Homo sapiens: one gene and its partners. The protein of the gene in region 1 purifies or fractionates together with the protein of each later gene. This does not show direct contact. Each region holds a gene or a part of one and is shown on either strand. Other genes may lie near its edges.

Evidence for each region.
Region 2: the proteins of NRROS (region 1) and ALG9 purify together in Homo sapiens (affinity purification with mass spectrometry; 2 studies listed by BioGRID and IntAct, with this or other methods). This does not show direct contact.
Region 3: the proteins of NRROS (region 1) and CNPY3 purify together in Homo sapiens (affinity purification with mass spectrometry; 2 studies listed by BioGRID and IntAct, with this or other methods). This does not show direct contact.
Region 4: the proteins of NRROS (region 1) and MARK2 purify together in Homo sapiens (affinity purification with mass spectrometry; 2 studies listed by BioGRID and IntAct, with this or other methods). This does not show direct contact.

Annotation. Positions count from the first base shown.
Region 1 is NC_000003.12:196,642,674-196,649,697, reverse strand, and holds part of NRROS (transforming growth factor beta activator LRRC33 precursor), read right to left. Parts: intron 1-7,024. UniProt on the Homo sapiens protein: Key regulator of transforming growth factor beta-1 (TGFB1) specifically required for microglia function in the nervous system.
Region 2 is NC_000011.10:111,861,560-111,868,583, reverse strand, and holds part of ALG9 (alpha-1,2-mannosyltransferase ALG9), read left to right. Parts: intron 1-3,332; coding exon 3,333-3,403; intron 3,404-3,885; exon of another isoform or gene 3,886-4,391; intron 4,392-7,024. UniProt on the Homo sapiens protein: Mannosyltransferase that operates in the biosynthetic pathway of dolichol-linked oligosaccharides, the glycan precursors employed in protein asparagine (N)-glycosylation.
Region 3 is NC_000006.12:42,932,480-42,939,503, reverse strand, and holds the end of CNPY3 (protein canopy homolog 3 isoform 1 precursor), read right to left. Parts: intron 5,127-7,024; exon of another isoform or gene 5,030-5,126; coding exon 4,906-5,029; intron 4,093-4,905; coding exon of another isoform or gene 4,031-4,092; intron 3,968-4,030; coding exon of another isoform or gene 3,931-3,967; coding exon 3,834-3,930; coding exon of another isoform or gene 3,750-3,833; exon of another isoform or gene 3,139-3,749; intron 1,788-3,138; coding exon 1,665-1,787; intron 1,415-1,664; coding exon 1,297-1,414; intron 937-1,296; coding exon 713-936; 3' UTR 210-712; downstream 1-209. UniProt on the Homo sapiens protein: Toll-like receptor (TLR)-specific co-chaperone for HSP90B1. Required for proper TLR folding, except that of TLR3, and hence controls TLR exit from the endoplasmic reticulum. Consequently, required for both innate and adaptive immune responses.
Region 4 is NC_000011.10:63,898,104-63,905,127, reverse strand, and holds part of MARK2 (serine/threonine-protein kinase MARK2), read right to left. Parts: intron 6,897-7,024; coding exon 6,848-6,896; intron 6,521-6,847; coding exon 6,455-6,520; intron 6,366-6,454; coding exon 6,295-6,365; intron 6,077-6,294; coding exon 6,020-6,076; intron 5,255-6,019; coding exon 5,018-5,254; intron 4,570-5,017; coding exon 4,450-4,569; intron 4,349-4,449; coding exon 4,249-4,348; intron 4,172-4,248; coding exon 4,059-4,171; intron 2,931-4,058; coding exon 2,798-2,930; intron 2,528-2,797; coding exon 2,346-2,527; intron 2,068-2,345; coding exon 1,970-2,067; intron 1,143-1,969; coding exon 981-1,142; intron 343-980; coding exon 85-342; intron 1-84. UniProt on the Homo sapiens protein: Serine/threonine-protein kinase. Involved in cell polarity and microtubule dynamics regulation. Phosphorylates CRTC2/TORC2, DCX, HDAC7, KIF13B, MAP2, MAP4 and RAB11FIP2. Phosphorylates the microtubule-associated protein MAPT/TAU.

The DNA of each region.
Region 1 (7,024 bases):
AGATCGAGACCATCCTGGCTAACACAGTGAAACCCCGTCTCTACTAAAAATACAAAAAATTAGCCGGGCGCGGTGGCGGGCGCCTGTAGTCCCAGCTACTCGGGAGGCTGAGGCAGGAGAATGGCGTGAACCCGGGAGGTGGAGCTTGCAGTGAGCCGAGATCACGCCACTGCACTCCAGCCTGGGCGACAGAGCGAGACTCCGTCTCAAAAAAAAAAGAGAGAAACAAATATTTCTCCCTGGGTCTGGGGGAGGGCTCTCCAGAGGCAGAGTGCGCACAGGTGCAGTGGTAAATGTGTGACAGTGACACTCATGGACACACAAGGGCACACGGTGCCGGATGGAGGCCTCCACAAGAAAGGGAGTCTGCCTTTGACTGCAAGAAAAAGAGCAATTGCACCTGGGATCTGGGAGAATGGGAAGGGCAGCTGGTCACAGACCACTGAGAACAGATGATACAGAACAAAACCAACCCCCAGTCTGTGACCATTTCCAACAGTCCCTTCTCCAGGAAGCACTGGGAAGTCTCAAGCAAGCAGCTCTGGTCCCTCTGATTCTTAGCAAAACATTAGGATGACCTCAACTTTCACCAAATGTCCAAACTCAACACCCCCGTGGTGAGAGCTCCTGCCATTCTGAGCCTCTGAGTGTGATGACTTAGGAAACAGGGTACTGTCCTGGTGGAACGCCTGCCAGAAACACTTGCCCTGAATCCAGTCATGAGGAAAGCCTCTGACAGATCTGGGCTGTAAGACGTCCTGCAAGGTAACTGGCCTGGACTTCTCAAGAGTCAGTCTTGAAAATCAAAGAAAGGCTGGAGTGGGGCTGGGGGTGTCTGTTCTAGATTACAAGTGACTAAGAAGCATTTAACCAAGTGCAGTGAATGAACCTTGAGTGGATGTTGGAATTTTTTTTTTTTTTTTTTTTTTTTGAGATGGAGTTTCACTCTTGTTGCCCAGGCTGGAGTGCAATGGCATAATCTCGGCTCATTGCAACCTCCGCCTCCCGGGTTCAAGTGATTCTCCTGCCTCAGCCTCCTGAGTAGCTGGGATTACAGGCATGCACCAGCATGCCTGGCTAATTTTGTATTTTTAGTAGAGATGGGGTTTTTCCATTTTGGTCAGGCTGGTCTTGAACTCCCGACCTCAGGTGATCCACCCAACTCAGCCTCCCAAAATGCTGGGATTACAGTCGTGAGCCACTGAGCTTGGCCGGATGTTGGATTTTAAAGAATCTCTAACAGAAAAGTATGAGACAATTGGGGAAATTTAAATAGGCACTAAGTGATGAGTTTTCAGATGCACAGATGATATGAGGTCTGCAGGTCGGATAACAAGCCTGTGGTTATGTAAGACATCGCCTCTATTGTTAGGAAATGCATGCTGAAGCACTTACAGGGAACTTTCATGATGTCCGTAATTTATGTAAACTACCTTCAAATGGCTCAATAGAGACAGTAAAGCAAAATATTACTACTCGGTAAATTTAGTATTGTACTTTCTTGTAAACTTTTCTGTAAGTTTTAAAGTACTCACATTTAAAAATGAGGAAAATGAAATAAGTGTTCCTGAAAAGAGATGTTAAATTATGGTAATCTCTGTCCCCATATTTCCAGGAATCATTAACATACCTTTTTCAAACACTCTTCTCAGAAAGGTGCTCAGGAAACATTTGTTATGTTAAAAATGGAAATACAGGCTGGGCACAGTGGCTCACACCTGCAATCCCAGCACTTTGGGAGTCCGAGGTGGGTGGATCACCTGAGATCAGGGGTTCGAGACCAGCCTGGCCAACATAGAGAAACCCCGTCTCTACTAAAAATACAAAAATTAGCCAGGTGGCTGGGCGCAGTGGCTCACGCTTGTAATCCCAGCACTTTGGGAGGCCAAGGCCAGCAGATCACCTGAGGTCAGGAATTTGAGACCAGCCTGACCAACATGGTGAAACCCCGTCTCTACTAAAAATACAAAAATTAGCCGAGCATAGTGGCAGGCACCTGTAATTCCAGCTACTCGGGAGGCTGAGCCAAGAGTGTCATTTGAACCTGGGAGGCAGAGGTTGCAGTGAGCCGAGATCATGCCATTGCACTCCAGCCTGGACAACGAAGTGGGACTCTGTCTCAAAAAATAAGCAAAAAGCAAAGAACCGATTGTGATCTTTGGTAAATTAACACATTCCTATATTTTGAAAAAGTAAATATTCAAATGGTGGATGCATTAACAAGAACTTGAAATTGAGGATTAGAACAACAAACATTTAGAATTGTGATGTGTGAATTCAGAGCTTGTGATTTGCTTCTCTAGCTTTCTCTTAATAATGAATTTGTCAAAATATAGACAATACAATTGTTTTGACTTCTCCCCCCCTAAGAACTGTCTCACACCCTGCAGGTAGAACAGAAAATTGGCACACTTTTTCTGAAGAACAATTTAGCCAATTTATCAAAGACCTTGAAAGTCTGGATTCTTTTTGATTCAATGACTCAAGTTCTAGGAATTTATCCTAAGGAAATACAATGTACATAAAAATATTTTAAAAGAAATATTCATTGTAACATTAGTAAGAATAATAAAAAAGTGGAAACCATCAAAAGTCCAATAATGGAAGCACTGGCTAAATAAGTTATGGTAAAACTACATGATAGGAATGACGTGGTATGATAAAAAAATGCTTTGGTAGCAATATATTGATTGACGCAGAAAGACGTTCATAATAAAATAATATCAAGGAAAGGAAAGTGTAAAGCAGAATGTGTAGTATAATCCCCAAGTTTGCTAAAAGAATATGCAGGCCAGAGAGGTGAAAAGAGAGGCACGCGGCGGCTCGGCGAAGGCAGTGCCATGGTTCCCAGCACTGGTTCAACTCAGATCTCCGGTTCCCACCCGGTTCTCCGGTTCTCTGGTCAGCCTGCGCTGTACCGGGGCTCGTGGCGAGAGACTCTCTGGGAATGGATGAGGCTCTGCCTCCATCGGGGGGGGATTCAGAGGCCCCAGCAACCCTTCTTCCCCTGGGCCCTTCCCACAGCGACTCCAGACAGCCAGTGTGAGGAGCCCGCTTTGAGCACCTCCCTGCTCAGCCCTCACTTCCTTAGGGCCACGAATAAGCCAACTGGCTTCCCTACGTGGTCAGCGTCGGCCTGGTAGAGCCATCAGAGGTCAGCCCACCTCGTCCTGTTCCATGCCCACAGGCTGCCATCTGGCCACAGGTCTTAATAAATGCAAACCTGCTCCCACTGGGAGGTGACACCTCGCCCTTGCATGCTGGTGGTGGCTGGTGGTAGGTCCTCGGTGTCACCTTTCTATAGGAGAGACCCACATAATCTCTGCTGATAGGCGCTCAACCGCATAACGCATTAGCATCTGATTTCCCTTCAGTATCACAAGTTTGTTCCCTCTGGTCACTTCTGAGGGAGTGGCTACCTGCCACCGCCCTTCTCGATAAGAAGGAGCAGGTGGGACCTGTGTAGAGGAAGGGACCCTGGGCTGGGGAAGGAGGCCTGGGCCCAAGCCTGGCTCCTTCACTCTGGTGGTGACCACGGAGGACAGCACTTGCCTTGATGGCCTCACAGGGTTGTGTCGAGACTGAATGGGACAGTGTGTGTGAAAAGGCTTTGTCGATGTAAGGGAATGTTCGGACTTCACGTTTAGTGGGCGGGGGACCCCACCAAGCCTTCCAAGGCCTGCAGGAGGACACGCCCCCACTGGAGGGGGACAGACGCTTTCCATAGTGAGACAAAGAGGTGTATTAATCAAAGGGAAAGCAGAGTTCCTCTGTGCAAACAGCAAGCTGGTGTTGAGGGAAATACAGTGAAGGAGAAGGAGCTTTCGTCCCTTCTCCCACCCCTGGGAGCTGCAGCGTGTGGACCCTGGGATGTCCAGGGGAGAAGCGAGCACCCAGGGTCCACGGTAGACTGTGGGCAGGGGTTTTTTATGGGTGATGACAGCGGCTTAGTGGCCCCAGTGGGAAAACAATGAAAATATATCCCCCCACCCCGACTACTTGGTTTCCTTGAGAAAGTGTACGATTGAAGAACGAAAGCATATGGATTCCTGACAAGAGGCCGATTCAAAGGTCAATTCAGTGGTGTTCGAGGTCTGCATAATCACTCCCAGATTCTGTCCGGGCTCTTCACTGTGACAGCTCATGCTTACTGAGTGCTCACCTTGGAACACGGGCTATACCGGGTACTTTACATATAATTCCCACAAAAATCCTAGCAGGTAAATGTTGTCATCTCCATTTCACACTTGGTCAATGGCGGCTCACATAGGTTTAGGCTGTACAGCTAGAGAATGTTAGAGCCACAATTCAAACCCAGGTCTGTGACTTCTGCATCAGCTCAACCTCAATACCACAAGCCCCAGCCACCCTGGGATGCCTGCGACCCTTGACTAAATCACGCATGCCCACACGCTCTGTCCTCTGTGGGAAAGGCTCTTTTGCTGGTCTTGTTCACCTGCAAAGCTCTTACTCATCCTGCAGGCTCAGTGCTGGTATCACCTCCTCATCACAAGCTAAAAGTTGAGTGGAGCAATAACCCAGTAATTCATATGGCAGTGTATTATAGGTAGCTACATTTCCTATGGAAGTTTTCTAATTTCTTATTATTTGATTTTTATGATCATGACAAGGAATGTGAACAGTTACTAGGTACTGTTAGTCATTTAACTTTTCCCCAACAACATACATCTATCCATCTATCTATCCTTCTGTCCATCTTTCTTTCTCCTTTTTTTTTAGAGGTCTTGCTATGTTGCCCAGGCTGGAGTGCAGTAGTTATTCACAGATGGGATTGTAGCACACTACAGCCTCAAGCTCCCAGCCTCAAGTAGTCCTCCCACCTAGGGCTACCGAGTAGCTGGGGCTACAGGCACACAGCACCACCCATGCCACCTTTCTTTCTTTCTTTTTTTTTTTTTTTTTTTTTTGACAGAGTCTCACTCTGTCGCCAGACTGGAGTGCAATGGTGCGATCTCTGCTCGCTGAGATCTCTGCCTCCGGGGTTCAAGAGATTCTCCTGCCTCAGCCTCCCAAGTAGCTGGGATCACAGGCACCAGATCACTACAGATCACCATCACACCCGGGTAATTTTTGTATTTTTAATAGAGATGGGGTTTCACCATGTTGGCCAGACTGGTCTCAAACTCCCGCCCTGGCCTCCCAAAGTGCTGGGATTACAGGTGTGAGCCACTGCACCCAGCCTGATCGTGCATTTCAAAGTACATTGCAGTCATTGATATACTTTCCTTTAAATATTTCAGAATGCATATCAAGTGATTTAACTTTTTTTTTTTTTTTTGAGACGGGGTCTCACTCTGTTACCCAGGCTAGAGTGCAGCGGCGTGACCTTGGCTCACTGCAACCTCCGCCTCCAGGGTACAAGCAATTCTCCTGCCTCAGCCTCCCAAGTAGCTGTGCCATGCGGTGCCTGATATTCTGAACAGCACCCCTGAGTGTATCATGGGACCATGGCCTTCTGTGGAGACAAAGCAAGACGGGGGCTGTCAGAGGCCTTCAAAATGGCTCTAACCTTCTCTAGCCAGAGAGCCTAGAAGAAAACTGGGGATTTGGAAGGAGATGAGAAGCTGAATGGAAGCATCAGTTTAAGGACCTGAGGAAGGGCCCAATAACCTAGAACAAGAGAACGGCCGAGGCCCATGAGGAGGTCTCAGGGTGTCAGGCTGGCTGGTGACAGGGAGACCGCTAACTTGCTGAAGTTGAAGGAGGTGGTCCAGGGCCAGGCAGGGAAAGCCCTGCTCCCCACTGAGCCTGCAGGGCCAAGGGAAAAGGCTCAGCCTTGGTGTCTGACGACCACAGAGGGGAGACACTGCAGGGCCGAGGGAAAGGGCTCAGCCTTGGTGCCTGAGGACCACAGAGGGGAGACACTGCAAGGGTAGAAGAGACCTCAGGGATCAGGGCTGGAGCAGGAGAGGAGTGAATGACAGTAGGGAGGATCAGCAGGAGTCCATGTCCAGTTGACATCTGAAATGGAGTGACATGAGCTTAGGAGAACACGATGTGTACCCATGGGTGGGCCCCTGCCAGGCACTGTGGGTGTGGGGTTGCCTTAGACACTTAGGTCCTGCTTGAGAACAGACAGGTGAAAAGACGGAGCGTTATGTGCTCTCTCTCCTGGGAGAAATCCCCTCCCGGTCCTTCTCTTTCTTGGAGGTGGCAGCAGAAAGTTGCTTGGTGCACATGGCGCAGCACCTGCCTTAGGCAACCTTTTGGGTTGGGGCTGGAGGAGGGGAGTCCCTGTGACCTCACCAGGCTTTGTGGCCACATTGAGCCTATCCAGTACCAGCCTGCTCCTCGCGCCCACCTCGTGGGTGAGGACCATGACGAGGTTCCACTTCCTCCTTTCTTCACTCTGTTCACTCTGAAATCCCTCAGGCATTAAAGTGAGAAAAGACACATTGGCTTGGGGTCAGCACCTGACTCCGTTCGCTCTGGAAATTGGTTGGTTTCGCCTACTCACTCACATTCGTTTCTCCTTCTGGTAACAACCCCTCAATTCCCCTTTGAGAAAATCACCCCCTTTCTTTCCTTTTTTTCTTTAGAAAATGTTTAATTGTAGTAAAATACACAAAACATGAAAGCGATTATCTTTTTTTTTTTTTTTTTGAGACAGAATTTTGCTCTTGTGGCTCAGGCTGGAGTGCAATGGCACAATCATCTCGGCTCACTGCAACCTCCGCCTCCAAGGTTCAAGCGACTCTCCTGCCTCAGCCTCCTGAGTAGCTGGGATTACAGGGACTCACCACCACACCCAGCTAATTTTTGTATTTTTAGTAGTGACGGGGTTTCACCATTTTGGCCAGGCTGGTCTCAAACTCCTGACCTCCTGATCCACCCGCCTCGGCCTCCCAAAGTGCTGGGATTACAGGGATGAGCCACCGCGCCCGGCCGAAAGTGACCATCTTAACCATTTTTAGGTGTACAATTCAGTAGTGTTAAGTACCCTTACGCGGCTGTGCAACCAACCCCCTTCCTTTCTTCAAAAGTCTGTGTGTTCGGGTCTGAT
Region 2 (7,024 bases), on another chromosome or scaffold:
GGAAGCAATCACAATTGATCAAGAGGTGAGTCTCTGGTATAGTTTTGAGAAAAGGACAAAATGAATTGGAAGTTAAAAGGGAACTTTTTTTGAAGAAGAATCATTTATCCAATTCACCATTCAACAAGCATTAATGAAACAACTTTTATTTGGTAGACACTGTATTAAGTGCTGTGGCTATAACAGTAACCAAGCCCCTGACTTAATGAAACTTGTGGTTTAGTGGAGAAGATGAACATTGAACAAATCATTCTAAATATGGTGGGTCTTATGGAGGAAAAGTACAATGTACGGTGGAATAGCATATTAGGAGGGTCTAATTTAAGTAGAGTGCTGAGAAATAATTAGATGTTAACTGGGACCTAACCTGATTAGTTTTCAGAAATTTGACTATGATGCGTCTTGGTGTGGATTTCTTTGGGTTTGTCCTGTTTGGAGTTTATTCAGCTTCTTGAATCTTTGGGCTTATTCCTTTTGCCAAATTTGGAAAGGTTTTAGTTTTTATTTTTTTGAATACTTTTTCAGCCCTGTCCGGTTTCCTCTTCTTCTGGAACTTTGATGATGTGAATGTCAGATCTTTTGTTATTAGTCCCCCAGGTCTTTGAGACTCTGTTTTCAATTTATTTTCTCTCAATGGTCAGTGGAGGCCTGGTAGGGAACCTCGAGTTCTACCTCCACTTGGCGGTAACAAGGTAGAGACTTCCCACTAACGCTCTTTCCCTGCTGGGTTAGTGGGAAGTAGTATCAAAAGAAGCCAGCTAAAACAGAAAGCTTAAATAAGATCGTAGGAGCACAACAGTGCAAAGAAAGCATGCTGAGCCCATGAATAATCCAGAATCTCATAATGCAATACCTAAAATGTCCAGCTTTCAACTGAAAATGACCTGTCATACCGAGAATCAGGAAGATCTCAAACTGAATGAACTGTTGTTCACATTGAGTAATTTCTTTTCTTCTGTCTTCCACTTCACTGATTCTTTCCTATGTCCCCTCTTCCAATGCTGACCCCGTCCATTGCATTTTTAGTTTGTTCTATGTACTTTTTCAGTTTTAAAATTTCCATTCAGTTTTTCTTTATATCTTCTAATTTTTTTTACTGAGACCTTCTCCTTTTTCATTTGCTTCAAGCATATTCTTAGTTATTCACTGAAATATTTTTACAAAGCCCGCTTTAAATTTTGTTAGATAATTCTGACACCTCTGTCATCTTGGTGTTGGAATCTATCGATGGACTGTTTTCATTCAGTTTGAGATTTCTACAAGACCTGGTAGGATCTATTAAGGTATTAGACTGTTGTTCTTTTCCCCCCAAGTCTGTTATGTAAAGCCACTGCAAGGTTTTCAGACAAAAGAGAGGTATGATTGCATTTACATTTTAGAATGATCAGAAAGGTGGCACCTGCAGAAAGTGACAAAATACTGTCCCTCCCTTCCCTATCCGGTATCTCATTTCCATTTTTTTGTTTGTTTGTTTGTTTGGTTTGTTTTTGAGACGAAGTCTCACTCTGTCGCCCAGGCTGGAGTGCAGTGATGTGATCTCGGCTCACAGCAACCTCCGTTTCCCGGATTCAAGTGATTCTCCTGCCTCAGCCTCCTGAGTGGCTGGGATTACAAGCTTGAGCCCCCACGTGTGGCTAATTTTTTTGTATTTTTAGTAGAGACAGGGTTTCACCATGTTGGCCAGTCTGGTCTCAAACTCCTGACCTCAAGTGATCCACCTGCCTTGGCCTCCAAAGTGCTGGGATTACGGGCGTGAGCCACTGCACCTGGCCTCATTTCTGGTTTTTTTTTTTGAACTTGTCAAAGGAAAGATAATAAAGGGTGAAGGGCTCAGCAGAAAACTAACAATGTGCTATGCAGAGGGTTTTTATTTCCATTTGGCTATCTAGTATCACTTCAAATTTTACATGTTCAACACAGAATTCTTCCTCTTCTCTAATCCTGTTACATCACTGATGTGCACAGCAAGTGAAATGGAAAGCAAGATTTCTCTTCTTCTCTTGTTCTTACTTCTGATCTCCTTTTTCCTAGCCATTCAGCAAAGGGGAATTGTAGCTTAGAGAGTCTTAGCCCCAGCATCATAACGTTGAGTAGAGAAGGATGGTTGTTTCTGAGAGACAGGGTGGTAACAATTGGCACATCTAGTGATAGCTACCTTCTCAATCTCTTGCTACCCCAAATGAAAGCACCTTTGTATTATCTCTTCATGGACCTGTTCGTGAATTTCTCTGAAGTGTACACTCAGGAGTGAGATCCCACAAGTAGGCCCATTTTTTTTGTTTGTTTTTGAGATGGAGTCTCACTCTGTCGCCAGGCTGGAGTGCAGTGGCACGATCTCGGCTCACTGCAACCTCCGACTCCCAGGTTCAAGTAATTCCCTTGCCTCAGCCTCCCGAGTAGCTGGGGTTACAGTTGCCCGCCACCATGCCTGGCTAATTTTTTTGTATTTTTAGTAGAGATGGGGTTTCACCATGTTGGCCAGGCTGGTCTCGAACTCCTGACCTCAAGTGATCCGCCTGCCTCGGCCTCCCAAAGTGTTGGAATTACAAGTGTGAGCCACCATGCCCGGCCAGTTATACTATATATTAAGTAGTGTTTAAGTTCTGAGAAATTCAGTGCTCTTAACCATATGGTATTCTGTAGTATAAAGCTACTTAATATAACCCCTATTTTATTATTTTTATTTTTTAAATTGATGTCAATTATAAAATTAATAAAGCCACATAACAGAACTTTGGAAGATAGGAGGAAAAATACTCATCTAAATCTACCAGGTTGCTATAGCTACTTTTACCATTTTATTACATTTCTTTCCAGTCTTTCCACATGCATATAGTGTCCATAGCTGTAACTGATGTATAAATAATATTGTACATTTTCTCTTAATATTTTGTCATAATCACTACCTGATATATTATGGTTGTTGAAGAATTGCTTGTTGAATGAGCATTATATTGCAAGAATGTTTTCACTATCTTTGTAAACATAAATTTTAATAGCTGTATAATTGTCCATGAGCTAGATGTAGCCTAGTTTATTTAATCATTTCCCTATAATTGGATATTTTGTAGTTTTTGAAACAGTTTTTACTAAAACTGCAATTAACATTTTCATGAATGGAGCTCTACCTCCCAACCCCCACCAGCTGGAGTGATAGAAGTAGGTATACTGATATTGAGTCAAGGGATATGAAAATTCTTGATCCATGTTGCTTTTCAAAAGAATTATACCAATTTACAGTGTTATTGACAATAAATGAGAGTGGTTCATGTTTATGAGTTTTTCTAGCTCATATCTGTGACTTCTGTTTTCTTTTTCTGGGTTTCTTTTAGATTCTTGTGTTTTACTTTTTGCGATGTCTTCTGGCTTTTGTGAGCTGTATTTGTGAACTTTACTTTTACAAGTGAGTATAAAAACTTTGCTTCTAAAAGTGCTGTGAGGAAACCCATTATTGCATAGATTATCTGTTGTGATAGTCTAGGCAGTGATTAGAAATAGAAAACTCTTGACCGGGTGCGGTGGCTCACACCTGTAATCCCAGCACTTTGGGAGGCCAAGGCGGGCAGATCACCTGAGGTAGAGAGTTTGAGACCAGCCTGACCAACATGGAGAAACCCCATCTCTACTAAAAATACAAAATTAGCCGGTTGTGGTGGTGCATGCCTGTAATCCCAGCTACTCGGGAGGCTGAGGCAGGAGAGTCACTTGAACTTGGGAGGTGGAGGTTGTGGTGAGCTGAGATTGTGCCATTGCACTCCAGCCTGGGCGATAAGAGCAAAACTCCATCTCAAAAAAAAAAGAGAAAGAAGTAGAAAACACTTTCCTCCTAGCTCCTGATATATATATCATATACATATTTTTTTTTCTGGGAAAGAAAACTTTTTTTTTCATACTGAGTTTTATTGTATGCTGCTGCCAGTGTGGATAAAACAGTTACCCTTGTGAAATAGAAATTCATGAAATTCAGAGAGGTAGATGTTAAAGACTGATGAAACTAGAAGTTCGTATATTACAGCACATGTGCTACAGGGATAAGCTTTTGTACAGGCTTCAAATTTAGCTCTCTTTTGAATATCCACTGGATCATAAGAAGTGGTTTGGGAAACTTTTGAAATTCATTTTACTACAAAAAAGAACAGATTTTCTGGGGTCTGAAGGGATTTGTACTTGAAGATACTCTAGTCAGCAGAGGGTCATGTTGAACATTCTGCAGACAGAATTGTTTGAAGTCTGCAGCTGCCTGGGAAACTTTTATGCAGTTGAGCCTGGCCTCCAGCCGGGGCTGTTGAACCACTTTCTTCATAGCGGCAACGCTGGAGGAGCCAGACATGGTGCACGTGAGGGCCGGGCCAGTTCGTGGGTTGGTGGGTCGTGGGTCAGCGGGGCCTGACTGAAAACTTCTTGCTTTTATTTATTGTTCTCTTCTTTTTCTTTTTTTAATTTTTATTTTTCAATAGTTTTTGGGGTACAGGTGGGTTTTGGTTACATGGATAAGTTCTTTAGTGGTGATTTCTGAGATTTTGATGCACCCATCACCTGTAGCTCCTGATATTAAATCTGAAGTGTGACTTCTCGTTTGAAACCAACAGTTGAAGGGAACACTGTACTTCTAATTATCGTTTTCTTTCCTGAGGTCATAAATACCATATCCTTATATCATTCATTTTAATTCTGTTAAAAACTATCTAACTGGTCTTTACTTGATAGGATTTAGTAGAACCCTATTTTCGGTCCTAAGATACAGGATCATGATTTGCCTCTGCCCTACAGCTTAGTTGATAATAAACTACTCCCGGTGTGGGATATCACTGCTCTTGTTTGCACCCAATATATTGTCTTTCACAAAGTACCTATTAGTTGATTGAATATTAGTTGGGACTATTAAGCATTTAAGTGTCCCGGTAATAAATATAGCCACCTTTTTTACATGATAACTAACAAACGTCTTGTTTTAATAATGCTTTAGTAATATATTTAAAGGTATTTGGACTTAGTGATCATTATTTAAAATCTTCCCACAGCTAAAAATGTCAGATTTTAAAAAATGTTTGGCCTTGACTGTGAGTGGAGTGGAGGGAAAAAAAGTAAAGCTAGTGCTGCCTTTGAGGATTGTAACCGTAAATTCCGTAAATTGGTCTTTATATGGGTTTGGGCCTGAATTCAGATCACCTATGTGGTCCTTCAAGCCCTAAGCTGAGAATTTACTTTAATATATTTTATTTATTTTATTTTATTTTTGAGACTGTCACCCAGGCTGGAGTGCAGTGGCATGATTTCGGCTCACTGCAACCTCAGCCTCCCGGGTTCAAGCAATTCTGCCATCTCAGTCTCCTGAGTAGCTGGGATTACAGGTGCAAACCACCACGCCTGGCTAATTTTTTGTACCTTTAGTAGAGATGGGGTTTCACCGTGTCTTGGTCTCCTGACTTCGTGATCTGCCCGCCTCGGCCTCCCAAAGTGCTGGGATTACAGGTGTGAGCCACCAGGCCCAGCCGAGAATTTATTTTAAATTGTTCTGGGTTGGTAGTGCCCGTGGCATCTGGCAAAAAATTTCTCTAGAGAAATGGACCCTTAACCCAAGTGTCTGAAAATTACCAGAGATAAAGTTCTAGTGAACAAGAAATTATAATAAAAATAAATCAGAGCACAGAGGGAGCAAAACATTATGGGTGAGAATCAGCAGAAATAACAGTCAACAGAACGTTCACCTGAAAAACTTCATTTATTGGGAAATAGGAATATAATGTAAGTATATTTAACATTTTCAAACAAGTAAAAGAACCAAAAACATGAACAAGAAACAAGAGATGACCAAATAAATTTAAAAAATTCAGAACTTATAAGAATCATATAATATGTAATATTATATAATATGAATAATATGTATATAATATTTATATTTAAGACTCAGTAGATAAACAGCAGATTAGACATTCTGATGAGTAAACTAGTAAATTGGAAGATTGATTTAAATAAATTACTCAAAATGCAGTACAGACAGACCAAAAAAAAAAGGTAATATAGAAAAGGTTAAGAAATGTGTAAGCCACGGCTGGGCACGGTGTTTTATGCCTGTAATCCCAGCACTTAGGGAGGCCGAGGCAGGTGGATCACTTGAGGTCAGGAGTTCGAAACCAGCCTGGCCAACATGGCGAAACCTCATCTCTACTAAAAATACAAAAATTAGCCAGGTGTGGTGGCACATGCCTATAGCCCCAGCTACTTGGGTGGTAGAGGCACGAGAATCACTTGAACTCAAGAGACGGAAATTGCAGTGAGCCAAGATCACCCCATTGCACTCCAGCCTGGGCAAGTGAGACTCTCTCTAAAAAAAAAAAAAAAAAGAAAAAAAAGAAACATGTAAGCCAGAGTTGAAAGAACTGACATACATCTAATCAGATTGTAGAAGGAGATGATAGAATGCGGAGAGGCAATATTCGGGGTATTAATAGCTGAGAATTTTCTAGAAATGATGGGAAAAAAAGATGCTAATCCATGGATTTAGTAAACCTAACATATCCCAAGCTAGATACATAAAAAATTAGTGTAGTGAAACTGTGTAAGACAATAGAGACAAAGAGAAAGATTTTAAAAATTGTCAGAGAACTAATAGAATACCTGCAAAGGAGTGTTAGGCAATTACACTGACAGAAGACTTTTTAACAGCCAGAAGACCAAAAAAGAATATCTTCAAAGTCCTGAGAGAAAATAACTTTCATCCTAAAATTGTATATTAGGTTAAGCCATCTTTTAAGACCAAGAGCTAAATACAGACTTTTCAGTTTAAAAAAAAAAGAGAAAGGGAAAAAAAAAGGAAGAAGCCTGTAATCCCAGTGCTTTGGGAGACTTAGGCAGGAGGATCATTGAGGATTGCTTGAGCTCAGGAATTTGAGATCAGCCTGGGCAACATAGCAAGACCTCATCTCTACAAAAAATTAGCTGGATGTGATGGCACATGCCTGTAGTCACAGTTACTCCTAGCCATTCAGGAGGCTGAGGCAGGAGGTTCCATTGAACACTGGAG
Region 3 (7,024 bases), on another chromosome or scaffold:
CGGCAGCCAGGTGTCCAGGACACGAGGGAGCAGCGTAAGGTCAGTGCACTGCCCTGGGCCTCATCCTATGCCCATGCCTCCCCTCACCCCAAGACAACCCTGGGCCTTCCCAGCACTTGCTGCTCCCGAGAGTGGGTGGGTTTTAGCCTTCCCCTCCTCAGCCCCACGGGCTGGAAGGCGAGGGGCAGGAAAGAACAAGAGGCTCCAGGGCACCTCTGAGGGCTGCAGAGGACTCAGAAATCAGAACCAGAACATTTTTACTCTTTGGGCTCTGGGAAGGGCCAGGCAGAGTGCAAGGTGTCCACAGGAGGGGTAAGCAGAGAGGAGCTACAGGGGGCTGCAGTCCTAGTACCCTGTTGGGGAGGACTGAGGGATGGTGAGTTTGGTCTCCGGAGGGGGCTCCAGTCCTGGTGCCCAGTTCTGACACCTGCCCCTCCTGAGTTCACACTGGAGTCCTTGCAGTCCTGAAACCACAAGGCCTGCCTGAACCCTGGGTCAGGAGAGAAACACTTGGGGAGGGGAAAGGACGGCGTGGGCTACCCATGACGGCTCTGAGTTCTTCCTGGGGCTTGTGTCTTTCCTTGGCAGAAGAGGGCACAGCCAAGGCAAGGAGGGGCTGAAGGCTGCGGGGCCATCCCGGCCTGCCAGAGCCATGCCCCTGACTCCTCAGCTTCAAAATCAGGGGTCTCAGGACAGAGGATGCTGGGTGGGCTCAGAGCTCATCAGGGGGGCTGTGTGTGAGAGGGGATGCCTTCTGGATGCCCTCATCCTCCTCGGGGCTGGGGTCTCCCTCAAGGCCACCCAGCTCCTTCCTTTGTTTGCTGCTGCTACTCCTGCCGCCTGCTGCCTTGGCCCTGCTGCTCTTCTTCTTGGACTTCTTCCCTCCCAGGGCAGCTGTGTCTCCCTTCTTGCCGGACCACTGCTCTGCCAGGCAACCTAGGGTGTGGAGGAGAGAGACCCTCAACAGAAGTGCCTCAGGGCTGGGGTGCTGGGCAAGGAGCACTGAGCAGGGAGCCGTGGGAGTAGCAACTGGGACTGTGCTTGACATCAGCCTCCCTGCCTCCTGCCTCTCGCTGTGGCCACCAGGCCCCTCTGGGGGCATCTGACTTGTCTGCCCATCATTCTGCACCTGGTTTCAGTGACTCTTACTTCACCATGTCTTGCCAATCAAGCCTTTCAAGGGCAGAGATCCTACAATGCCCTCTGGTGCCCTCTGTTTCTCCTCCTACCCACCTCCCCCAAGGGAGAGCAAACAAATCATCCAGAGCCAGCCTGCCCTTGCTTCCCCAAACTCACTGGTGTCTTTTCCCTTCAGCACGTGGTTGGCGCAGAGGAATTCAGTCAGGTCTTCCTCCTGGTGGTTCCTGTACCAGTCCTCGATCACCTCCTCAAACTCTTCCACCAGCACATCACACTGTTAATCATAATACCTCATATTGGCAAAGCCCCAGCACCTGACTCGCTCCTAGAGGAGCTCAGCTAAGCCTCGCAACCCACTGCAAGGTAGGCAGTGGCAGCGGTTCACCTAAGGAAACTGAGGCCAGAGAGGTGAAATGACCTGACCAAAGCCACCCCGGCCTGGGTGGACTTCCTCAGAGCAGACCCAATCCCCACCAGCCCCTCACTGGGCACAGCAACCCTTCCAAGGGCTGAAGGGCCTGTACCTGCTTCTTGAGGTCAGCCACCTCTGCAGAAGTCTCGTTCCACAGCTCATAGGGGATGTCCATCACCACCTTGACCCCTTTGTGTACCAGGTTGTGTAATGTCTCAAAGGTCTCTGACATGCCCTGGAAGAAGCGACCAGATATGGCAGGCGGAGCTCCCTTCTCTCCCTCCCACCCTCGTCTCCCAGTGGTGGCTAAGAACCCAGCTATAAGACCAATGCTCAACGCCCTCTAAGGATCCTCATCCTTTTTTTTTTGAGAAGGAGTCTCACTCTGTCGCCCAGGTTGGAGCGTCTCAGCTCACTGCAACCTCTGCCTCCCAGGTTCAAGCGATTTTCCTGCTTCAGCCTCCCAAGCAGCTGGGACTACAAAGGCGTGCCACCATACCCGGCTAATTTTTGTAGAGTTGGGGTTTTGTCATGTTGGTCAGGCTGGTCTCGAACTCCTAGCATCAAGTTTTCCACTCACCTCAGCCTCCCAAAGTGCTGAGATTACAGGCGTGAGCCACCGCACCTGGCCTCATCCTTGACCTGACCTTCCTCTTCCCTCTTTTAGGCCTGCTTCCCACAACCCCTGCACATATACCCCCTGATCTGCCTCTGCACACCTCATCGCTTCAAAAAGACCTGCGGCTGCCCTCAGGCCCTTTGGCTTTATGCTTCTTTTCCAGGAAATAGGTTTGTCTTAGCTCTTTCCCCTCACTATGGCTGGAAACACTCCCATATCATCCAGACCTGCTGTTCCGTTCTTCCTGGGTTGTGTCTTTCCTCAGTGGGAAAAAGGCATAGCTGAGGCAGGTAGACCCTTTATTCTGTAAAAACTATCTCTGCTAGCTGCCTAGGTCTTATCCCCAGAGAAAACATACTATCCATTTCCTCTATTTTCCCAGAGATAACTCATACAAATACCAATATCTAAATATATCCTCCCCCCGCCTTTTTACACAAGCAGTGGTATAGCATACACACTATTTTGCACTTGCCCTTTTTACTTATACCTTGAAGGGCTGGGTGCAGTGGCTCATGCCTGTAATCCCAGCACTTTGAGAGGCCAAGGTGGGCTGATCACCTGAGGTCAGGAGTTCGAGACCCCCTGGCCAGCATGGTGAAACCCCGTTTCTACTAAAAAACACAAAAATTAGTCGGGCGTGGTGGTCGGTGCCTGTAATCCCAGCTACTCAGGAGGCTGAGGTGGGAGAATAGCTTCAATCTGGAAGGTGGAGGTTGCAATGAACTGAGATCGCACCACTGCGCTCCAGCTTGGGCAACAGAGTGTGAGACTCTGTCTCCAAAACAAACAAACACACAAAAACCTTGAAAATCAATTGAATTCAGTTCCTAAAGAGCCTCCCCATGCTTCGTTTCCAGCCGCATACTAGTCCACCAAACGGCTGGATCAACGTATTTAATCCCCTATTGGTAGAGTTAGATTGTTTCTCATTTTTTTCCTGCTATGAAAAATAATTCTTAAACACTTTTTATTAAAGCAAACACAGATTTATTACTGAGTGCAAAATTCATACAAATTTCTGCTGCTTGAGACTATTCCCTTAGGTATCCCAGGAGTTTATGAATGGTATCCTTTGCTAGAAGGAAACTTAGGTAGAAAAATGTGGGTGGCAACTATCTTACCCTGTGCCAGGCACTGAAGATGTAGAGAGTAAGAACTATGGGCCTTGTTGTAAGCAGCTCATTCTCCAGAGAGAAAAGCACTCGTACACATACTGAGTACATGGGCCATCACAAGGGCATCCCAGCGGGGTTGTGGGAGGTGCTGTGTGGACCCAGAGATGGGACTGGGCAGTCACTCCCACCGAGGTGTCCTCTGACACCTCGCCTAAACCCCCACCTTTCTGCACATCGTGGATCTTGCTGAGTTCTCCCCGTTCTAGTGTCTTTAGGTTCCCACGGGGGCAGCAACTGTGGAGCATTTCTGCCTGTGTCTGAGATTGAAGCAGGACCCTCATGAACAGGCCCAGACCCTCATGCATGTGCCTGAAAAATGAGGCCACTCAAGAGGGGAGGAGCACAAACGGCAATCAAAGAATGGGAAGAGGCAATGAAGGAAGATCCCAGGTGGTCATCTTCAAATCACACTCACACCAGCAGACACACTAAGATACATGCAGGCCTGACCCCAGAGCGGATGAAGGACAATCCCGAATCCAACCTTGGCAAATCGATTGCTGCCGGTCCTCTCCTTGTGCAGGCTATAATCCAGGAGCCTCTTGCAAATGGTCTCAGTGACTTCGATTAACCGCAAGTCCCTGCCAAGACAGGAGGATGAGGAACTGAGTTCCCCTCCTAGCCGCAGTGGGTTAGTGGTCTGTCCCTCCAGCCCTGTGCCCCAACACCTGCACATCTCACCAATGGGAAGTGACTCAGAGCTGGAAGGAAGATAGGTCATCTGGTCTGGGGGATCTGAAATGCTGGAACACAGACCAGAGAGACAAAATTTTAACAGCTCTAAGGGAAGGAATTTTTTATAAAGCTAAATGATTCAGTATTTAGATTTTTTGATAAAGCAAAATTATTAAATTTTGATAGTAAAATATCATTCTCTTTGAAAGGATGATCACAGCTGACAGAATTGGGTTTTTAAAAACTATATTTGTACCTAGCAAAATAAAAAGCTGGTAATCCTGTTACTAATGTTTTAAAAAATTGCACTGTGGCCGGGTGTGGTGGCTCACACCTGTAATCCCAGCACTTTGGGAGGCCGAGGCAGGCGGATCATCTCAGGTCAGGAGTTCGAGACCAGCCTAACCAACATGGTGAAACTCCATCTCTACTAAAAAAATACAGAAAATTAGCTGGGCGTGATGGCACATGCCTGTAATCCCAGCTACTTGGGAGGCTGAGGCAGGAAAATCTCTTGAACCCGGGAGGCAGAGGTTGCAGTGAGCAAAGATCATGCCATTGCACTCCAGCCTGGGCAACAAGAGTGAAACTCCGTCGCAAAAAAAAACTTGCATTGCTCTGTGAAATCCAAGCGTCTGAGAATCAATGATATAGTCCAACAGTCTTGCTTTTAGAGATGAGAAATCTGCTGAAGCATAAAGAAGTTAAGAGATTTATGCACGTCACCCAATTAGCTGGGGACAGAATCAGTGGGCAAACTCAGGTCTTGGTTACAAATGATGCCCTTGTAGGGGGTTTGCCTAGCTAGGAGAAGGGAACTCCAAACCCCTGAAGCCTCCAGCAGCAACGCAGGCCAGGCCAGTGAGTCCCCATTCACTTACGACTTGGTGTATTTGACTCCAGAGGCCTTCTGGTCCAGGATGCCATAGCCCGTGCCAATCACCTCCTTGGTCTTGCCGGTTTCCTCAAAGGCTGACTTCAGCTCCACAGCAACATATTTACACACTGGGGGAGGGAGGTAGCACAGCCCACTGAGTGCACATGAGTCTAATGGGAGGCCAGCTCCCAGCAAAACAGATCCAGGTGGGCATCCTTTCCTAGACTGGAGGACCAAAATCAGCACTCAAGGCAGGGAAGGAGTTAGAACCTGTGGAGGCTAAAGCAACTCCATCTTGGATGCTAATGTGCCATGTTGACTTCTGATTAACCCCAGTTTCAGGAATGCCTCTAGGATTTCTATTTTATCTACTGTTTCTTGTGTAAGAGCATGTACTTACTGTAAATCCTGCCCTTAAGCAATTGTTCTTCGTATTCCTTTTTTTTTTTTGAGATGGAGTTTCGCTCTTGTTGCCCAGGCTAGAGTACAATGATGAGATCTCAGCTCCTGGGTTCAAGCGATTCTCCTGCCTCAGCCTCCCAAGTAGCTGGGATTACAGGCATGCACCACCATGCACGGCTAATTCTGTATTTTTAGTAGAGACAGGTTTCATCTTGTTGGGTAGGCTGGTCTTGAACTCCTGACCTCAAGCGATCCGCCCACCTCGGCCTCACAAAGTGCTGGGATTACAGGCGTGAGCCACCACGCCAGGGTCTATCATTTTACTTTCTAAAATTGCATACATACAGAAAAGCTGAAAGAACACAATGAATACCTTCCACTTGTATTCAACAGTTGTTAATAGTTTGCCACATTCTCTCTTCAATATATAATTATAATATCTCAACAATATATACATTTCTTTTGCTACACCATCTTGAAAGTAAGTGGCAAACATGACCTTTTGAGATAAATATATCATCATGTATCTCCTGAGAAAAAAGACCTCCTCCTACATAACCATAGAACAATTATGATACTTGGAAAATTAACAATTCCAACATCACCCAGTAGTCCATATTCAAATTTCCTTAATTGTCCCCAAAACATCTTTTATGGTTGTTAGATTACTTGATTTCATATGTGTTCCAACATCAGCTCTATTTCTACCAAGTTAATTTGCTCCATGCCCTCCAGAGAGCTCTTGTTCCTACTGTCTCCGCACATTTATTTCCTCATTTCCTCTTACCCTTCCTCAAATAGGTATTAGGCAACTCCTACGTGTCAGCCTGGGGATACAGAGATGAAAACAAGGTCCCCTCCCTTCCAGATACTCAGTCTAATGCAGCAGATAAAGGTGTAGACAAATAACTACCACTGTATAGAGTGCTACAGTGCTACCACCGAGGGTGTGAAGTGCCTGAGGCCCTAGGAAAATACTTAATGCCTTCTAAGGGCTTCTCTGCCCATCCTGCCCACCTCGCATTATAAGCCTCTCCCCCAGGAAGCCATTCTGCACTAATGCCAATTGCTCTAGATTTCACTCTGGGCCTCTGCAGGATCCATGCTCTCCCTAAGGACCCTCAGTCATTTGATGTGTCTCTCCACATAGACCACAAGGGTCCCCAAAATGTGCATTATGTATTAGATTTTTTCGTATTTCCTTAGCCTGGGACTTGATATATGCTGGACGCTCGATAAATCTTGTTGATAGAGACCGTCTTCTGATGCCTCTGAATGGAATACCAGTCTGAAGGCTAAATGCCATCAGCAGTTTTAACACTGACAGCACAGTCTGCTAGAATACCAATTTACCACAAAAATAAATACATCCCCTGGAGGCCTGCTTGGTGAAATTAATCAATGGCTTGGAGAATTTGAAACACATACAAATTCCAAGTAATAAGCTGGTGATCTTCAAGTCTGCAATGAACTGGGGATGTCTCACCTCCCCAGCTCTCCATCCAGGACCATCTGGGCTCCCTCCCCTCTTCTGTCCTGTACTCTGTGCAGGCACATCATTTTTCTAGCACCACTTGCCCCTCCTCCCACGCCCTCCCCAGGAGTGGGGAAAGGGGAGGTTTGGAACATCCTTTCTCTCTCATACCCATCAACCACAGCCTTGCTTTCCAGCTCTTCCAAACATTACCTCTTCAAGACCTCCTCTGCGGATCCCACCCAGA
Region 4 (7,024 bases), on another chromosome or scaffold:
CCCAACCCCCAACCCCCAACCCACCCCGAGTAAAGCAGGAAGGCCTGGCCTGAGCCTCTCTGCCACCCAAAGCTCCTTGCTTACCTGCGTACAAACTTGGAGGTGAACTTGCTGAAGATGCTCCCAGAGGCCCCCCGCCGGCCCTGGCTGTGGCCAGAGGGAGAGGCTGGGGTCACACCGTAGGGCAAATTCTGCTGGTCCCGCACCTGTCGGAGCTGCCCAGCATGGAAGGTGCTTCGGCTGGACACACCCCGGGGGAAGTTAGTTCGGTCTGGGGCTCCACCACTGCTGCTGATGTTGTGGGCGGATGGGGAGGCAACAGGGACACGCTGGGGGGCTGTGCTGTGGGAAGAGAAGTGGGGTTGAGGGGGACGAATTAGGGTACAGGACAGCCATCACTGGGCACCTGGACACCCTGTGGTGGGGACAGGGAGGGGGATGCTAGGGCAGAGGCAGCCATCACGAGGACACAGAAGGAAGGGTGTGACTACTGAGGACAGTGGTGAGAAGGAAGTCTCGTGGAAGTGGAAGGAGATGGTTTGGGAAGGGAGGGAGGGAGGCAAGGAAGGACCCCTGTGTGGAGTGTGGTTTAGGCTGGAGACAGCGGGCTCCCTGGGAGCCGGGCAGACTGGACCCTCAAGGCGGCAATGGGGACCAACCCTTGAGGATTGAGTCCCTGTGATGCCGACTATCCCCGGGGTCCCTAAGGAAACCCTGGAAGGTTCAGAACAAAAAGGTTTCCCTTTGGAGCCTTAGGACAGCTTCCTGCATACCTGTTCTGAGAGGGAGAACTGGAAAAGAGGGGCATTAATGCTCTTTTTTGTTCCCTCCACTTCCTGGCCGCAGGGGACAGACCCATTTCTTGTGGCTAAGATGACAAGAACACAGCAGGACCCCCAAGTGGGAAGAAGAAATTGTTGGGGCAAGGGGGTAGGGTGGGCTGAGGGCAGCAGGTGCACCAGCTGCCCCAGCACACTTGCCTGGGCCGCGGCACCTCACAGTTACTCTCCGTGGGGGGCAGCCCAGAGGCCTTGTTGGGGTGCACGGAGGCCGACATGGATTTCTGGTGCTGGCGGGGCCGGGCCGCAGAGACTGCGGCAGAAGCAGAAGCCGTGGAGGCCCGGGACCCTGGCATGGTTAGGCTAGGAAACAAAAGCAGCGGAGAGGCCCGTGTTAGGGGTGAGTGAGGGCGGGAGGCCTGGATTAGGAAGCAAGGGCAGGGGAAGGGCCAGAGCTGGGGAGCTCTGGCAGGGTAGAAGTCAGGCCTGGGCAGCAGCGGGATGCAAGTCAGAACTGAGGAATGCGGGGCTGAGAAGTGGAGGTGAGTGAGGTCGGGAAGCAGCGAGGTGGGTCAGTGCCTGGGAAGAGGAATCAGAAATGAAGGAGAGCAGACAAGGGGCCGCTGCCTCCAGGCTGCACTGGCCTCCTAAGAATTTTAAGAACAGGAGAGTTTCTTCTACAGAAAGAGTGGGGTGTTGCTGAGGGGAAACTTTCATAAACTCAGAAGAGATAGAGCCAGGAATGCAACACCAAGAAATGCGGCCGGTGAAGGCTGGGGAGCTCTGGTCTCATGGGGATGGCTGGAGTCGCCCTCTATGTGTACACCCCTCAAGGTGGGCATCTCTTGGTTCTGCCCTGAGCTGGGACCCCCAACACAAGGCCTTAGCTGCTCATGTCTAGAGGAGGGCAGCTGCCATGCCCTGGCCGTGGTCAAGAAGCGAGCATGTAGCTGAGATGGCCACGGTCAGCCCCACACTTGGCAAACTGCAAGTAGCAGTCAGAGGAAGATGGGGAGGAGGCAATGGCGTGGAATAGGGGAGGGGAAAGCTGGACTGGACACAGCCAGGATGGAACTCCAGGGAGCAGGGAGCAATGCGCTGGCAGGGACAGGAGACGGTGCTGCTGACAGACATCACCCTGTGAGACATGGCTCCTAGGGAGTGAGGCAGGCAGGGCCCGGGTCTCTCACCTGTCTTTGCCATTCTGGATGGAGGCCTGGCCGAGGCTGGCCCGCTCCAAAAGTGGGGAATTCCTGCTTCGATTTGTGCTGGTGGAGAGGACGCTGTTCTGTGGGGAATAAAGGGCAAGCGTTCTATCAGAAAGCCAAAGTGGTCTACAGCCAGGTTCTCCCCCCAGGTTCATGGAACAGGCTTCCTGTCCCTTCCACCTGAAGCAGACAGTGGTAGGTTAAGGAAAGGATTCTGCATTTACTGCTGGGAGCGAGGCTTCCTGCTATAAGCAGAAGTAGTAGCCAAAGGGAACAGAGTCTGAATTAAGAGAAGAGCTGCCTGGAGAGGGCAGGCCCCACCGCAGGAAGGAAGGAGAGAGCGGGGGGTGCGGCTCACCGTGGAGGGGGTTGGGGTGGTCTTCTTCCTCTCCAGACCGGGCAGGGGGCTGGCAGGCACCTTGGCTGTGCTGCTGGCTTTCCGCCCTGACTCCCGGTCCTCCTCAGGCCGCTTATTTTCTGCGTTGTTACTCTGAGTCTTCTTAGAGTAAGAATTAGAGGTGGGAATGGCAGGACCAGCTGCTGGGCCAGAGGGAGGATGGGAATGGGTAAGGCCAAGGGGTCCACTGAGTGCCAGCCCCACGCATGCTCATTTCCTACAGGGCTGGCCAACAACCCAGCAAGCCCCCATTCCACAGAGGCGAGGGAAGGGAAGTGGCTTGCCCATAGCCACACTACTAATAAGTGGCTGAACCAGGACTGAAACTTAGTTGTGTTACCCAAGTCCCCACAGAACCTGTAACCTCTCTGGAGAGGGGTGAGTCCCCACCTACAACTCCCAAAAGCATTTACCCTGGTCGCTGAAGCGCCGCTGCTTGGGATTGGCCGACACGCTGCGCTGTACCTTGTGGGATGGGGATGGGGCGCTGCTATTGGTCAGATCAGCTGAAGGCCGGGGTTTCAGGGTGATGGTGTCGCCTTCCAGCTGAAAGAAACAGAAAACAGCTTCAAGGGAGGGCAGAAGTCATGTGGAGATCCCTATGGATGGACACATTTACACATACCGCCCTCTCCCAACACTCAAACACCCCAGGATCATACCGGACATCCACTTGTAAGACCAATACATCCCCCCTGGAGGAGACCCTGGAGACACACATGCTCTGACACAGACACTGACAAACACAGTCTCAGAAAGGAATACATAAGCCCACACACCCAGAGACACAAACATCCGCAAGAACACATGTCCAGACTCAAGTCCACTCCCCTCAACACAGAGCAATATGGGCCTATACCAAGTGTCACCAGGTGCCTCTTAAGGATCCCACCACCAGAGGGAGAGCAGGGCAGGGAGGCTGGGAGTTCATGTGGGGATACTCAGATGATGAACAAAACCCAAATGGGCAGAAGAACAATCACAAAGTCTCCAGATCCACAGACGGGAAGACGGACACATACACACACACACACACACACACACACACACAGATACACACACCCAAACATAAAGCACTAGACAGAAGCAACAGACTCAATAGCCGGGTATGGTGGCACATGCCTGTAATCCCAGCTACTTGGGAGGCTGAGGCAGGAGAATCGCTTGAACCCGGGAGGCGGAGGTTGCAGTGAGCCAAGATCCTGCCATTGCACTCCAGCCTGGGCAACAAGAGCGAAATTCCGTCTCAAAAAAAAAAAAAAAAAAAAAAGCAACAGACTCAAACTTCCGATCAGACACACACAGAGACACACACACACACCCAGAAATGTACACTTCCAGATACAAAAAGAGACACAAAGATATCTAGATCAATGTAGTAGTGCTAGCCGATGACCTAGACACATCTAATCAATGCAGACTAACCTAGATCAACTCACCCGTATTGAAACTCTGACCCAGTCCCACACCGACCCTACCAGCTTTCTATTAATTCACTCATGGAGATCAGTGAATGGGCCAGAGGACCTTAGACACCAAAGCTGAGGCTTAAAATTGGTGAGCAGAGAGCACACCTACTCAGAGATGAGCTTCTGCCCTCAACAGGTGTTAGAAGCATAGGTGCTACAGACAGTGAGGCTGGCCAGGTCAGAGAATGGGGCGGGGAGCACACACCTCGGAGCTCTTGTAGCCCAGGAGCAGATAGGTGGCCATCACCTCGTTGTATCTCTGGCCCACCAGCGAGTCCTGGATCTCTTCCCGTGTATAACCCATGGACACCATCAGCTCTGCACAGGGGGACATACAGTTAAGACTGGCCTCAACTCCTAGGCAAGCTTAACCTCACAGCCCGGCACAGCCTCACCTGTCCGCCGGGGGTCCTTGTAGTCAGGGAGTGGCTCCACGTAAGGCTTTAGTTCATCATCTTCGTGACCCACATTCATCCATCGATCTTTCATGATTTGCTGGGGAGCACAGAGAAGGAAAAGGGCAGGGGGAAGAAACTCAGCTGGAAAGTTTCTGTGGGGACCCCAGGCCCTTCCGCCAGTTGGGCTCCACTGCTCACCTCTAAAGTGCCTCTCTTGCTGGGATTAAGAATGAGAAATTTCTTAAGCAGGTTTTCACAGTCCGTGGACATGTAGAATGGAATACGGTATTTTCCCCTCAGTACCCGTTCCCGCAGCTCCTGCAGGAGGATCCAGGGTTAGAAAATTGAAATCACCCCAAGGCCAAAGGAAGAAACCTAATATCCAAGATCCTGAGAGCTTAAGCCTGGCAAAGCAGACATAAATGAAATATGGAAGAAGGCAGACAGCCTGGGGACAAGACACCTCACCAGAGAGGCAAGTGAAGTCAAATACCCTCGTACCCTCTAACTTGACCAGTCCGAGGCCTGCAATCCGGAGTGCCTTGGGGGATGAACACACACACAGTTTATCCCATCTTTCGAGAAAGGAACTGAGGTTATTCATTCCCAGGTGCAGAAGGCCTTTGACTGCTGCTACCTCAGCAAGCCCTTCTCTGAAGCTTTGGCTTGGGACAAATGTAGACAGGTGGCAAAGGCAGGAGGTCAGGGCTAAGACCAGAGGCCGAGAGGAAATGAGAAGCAATAAAAAGCTTGCACTTCACTCCACCTTGAGGTTCTGTCCATCAAAAGGCAGGGATCCGCTGACCAGTGTATAGAGGATAACTCCTAGGCTCCACACATCCACCTCGGGTCCATCATATTTTTTGCCCTGGAAGAGTTCTGGGGCAGCATAAGGGGGACTGCCACAGAAGGTGTCCAGCTTGTTCCCAAAGGTGAATTCATTGCTGAAGCCAAAGTCTGCAATCTTGATGTTCATATCAGCATCCAAGAGCAGGTTTTCTGCCTGGGAGGTAAGATGGAAAACATCAGGGAACCAAGTGGACCAGACTAAGGCCCTGGGCAGGAAGGAGCTGAGGGGAATGGGAGAACAAACGGAAAGTCATCTTCAGTCTCAGAACTTTCTCCACCAATTTCAGGGCAGGGCTTCAATCAGCGTGAATAGGCTGGGCAGGAGGAAGGCAATGCAGGCCACTCCTCACGTGGGCAGCCATGGGAGAGATGGGATCTGAAGGCCCAGAGACCCTGTGAGCTGTGCAAAGCTTCAGCATCAGGCCCAGGTTAATCAAATCATGTCTGTGAGGACTCAGCAGCCAAGAGACCCACAGGTGTCCTCAAACTTGAGTATCTTGGTGATGGAGATGGTATGTGTGTGCCTGCCTGCAAAGCAGCTGGGATACAGCTGTGGAACTTTCAGCACTCTTCCCTGGGTCAGCTACCAGGTTGCCTGAAAGACTGAGAAAGCCTGGAGTGTGCCTGCCTTGCTTGGCAGCACTAAAAGGTGATGTGCCAAGAGGTGAAATGGCAGAGGGCCCCTGCTCAAGGGCTAGAATGGAACCCGAGGTCCAGCCACAAGGCCTCTATCAGAGGCAGCCCTAGGGGCTTTCTGGTCATCTCAAAAAAAAAAAAAGAAAGAAAGAAAGAAAAAAAGAAAGGCTGGAGTTTCCTGGAACACTCAGGGCCTGATGGTTATTGATGGTTTTATCATGGAGAACCAAGAGGCAACAACCTGGCTCCCACTCAAAGGCACAAGGAGAAGTGCATGCCTTACCTTTAAGTCTCTATGGACAATAAACTTCTGGTGACAGTACTGCACAGCAGACACTATCTGAAAGGAAGGAAGAAGGGTTAACCCAGGGGTGCCTGAGGGTGGGCCACAGGGGCTGACAGAGCAGTGACCCTGTGACTTAGTGCTAACCTGCCACACGGATAAGCAGAGCCCAAAGTACCCTCCAAGGGCCACTTACAGACAGGCAGCTTATCCTTACATGTCAAACCCCAAAAGCAGAGGTCAGGCCTAGCTCCTATGGAGGGAGTCACACCTACCTGGCGGAATTTGGCTCGAGCCTCTTTTTCTTTCATCCTGCCATGAGCCACTAGGTAATCAAATACCTCTCCTGTAAGAGACCAGGCAGGGATCTCAGTCAGAGCTGGCTGGAGGTGGAAGAAGTGGGGGCACAACAGGAAGAGGCAGTTCCACACCTACCGCCACTAGCGTACTCCATGACAAGGTAGAGCGTTTTCTCAGTCTCAATCACTTCAAATAATTTAACTACAAGAGAAAAGGCCAAGCCTTAAGTCAAGAAGCAACAGGGGCCACATACTGCTCTCCAACATGTCCAGGAGCATCCTAGGAACGAAAGTCTCCCCTCCTTTCATGATCCCCCACTCCCAAGAACAAGTTCCTCTCATGCCAGCCAAACTGCTAAAGACAGCCCAGTGTGCCAGAAGGGGAGATGGATTTTGAGCTGAGCTTCCCCAGGGGTATCCTTGAAGACTGCAGACTCCAGAAGGCAGTGCACCTCGGGGAGAAGATGACATGCTGGAAAGCAGTGCCTTGCTGTTGGGGAAGAAGAAAGAAATAACAACTTGTGCTCACCTATGTTGGGATGATTCAAAACCTTCATTATTCTTACTTCGCGGAATAGCTGGAAGATAAAATACCAGGGGTCATGCCTGCCCAACTTGCTCCCATCAGGTCTCTCCAAACAGTCCCTGCCAGGATTTGTTTTTCCCAAAAAACCAAAACCGGGCAGGGAAAAGAAAATAGGGTGGT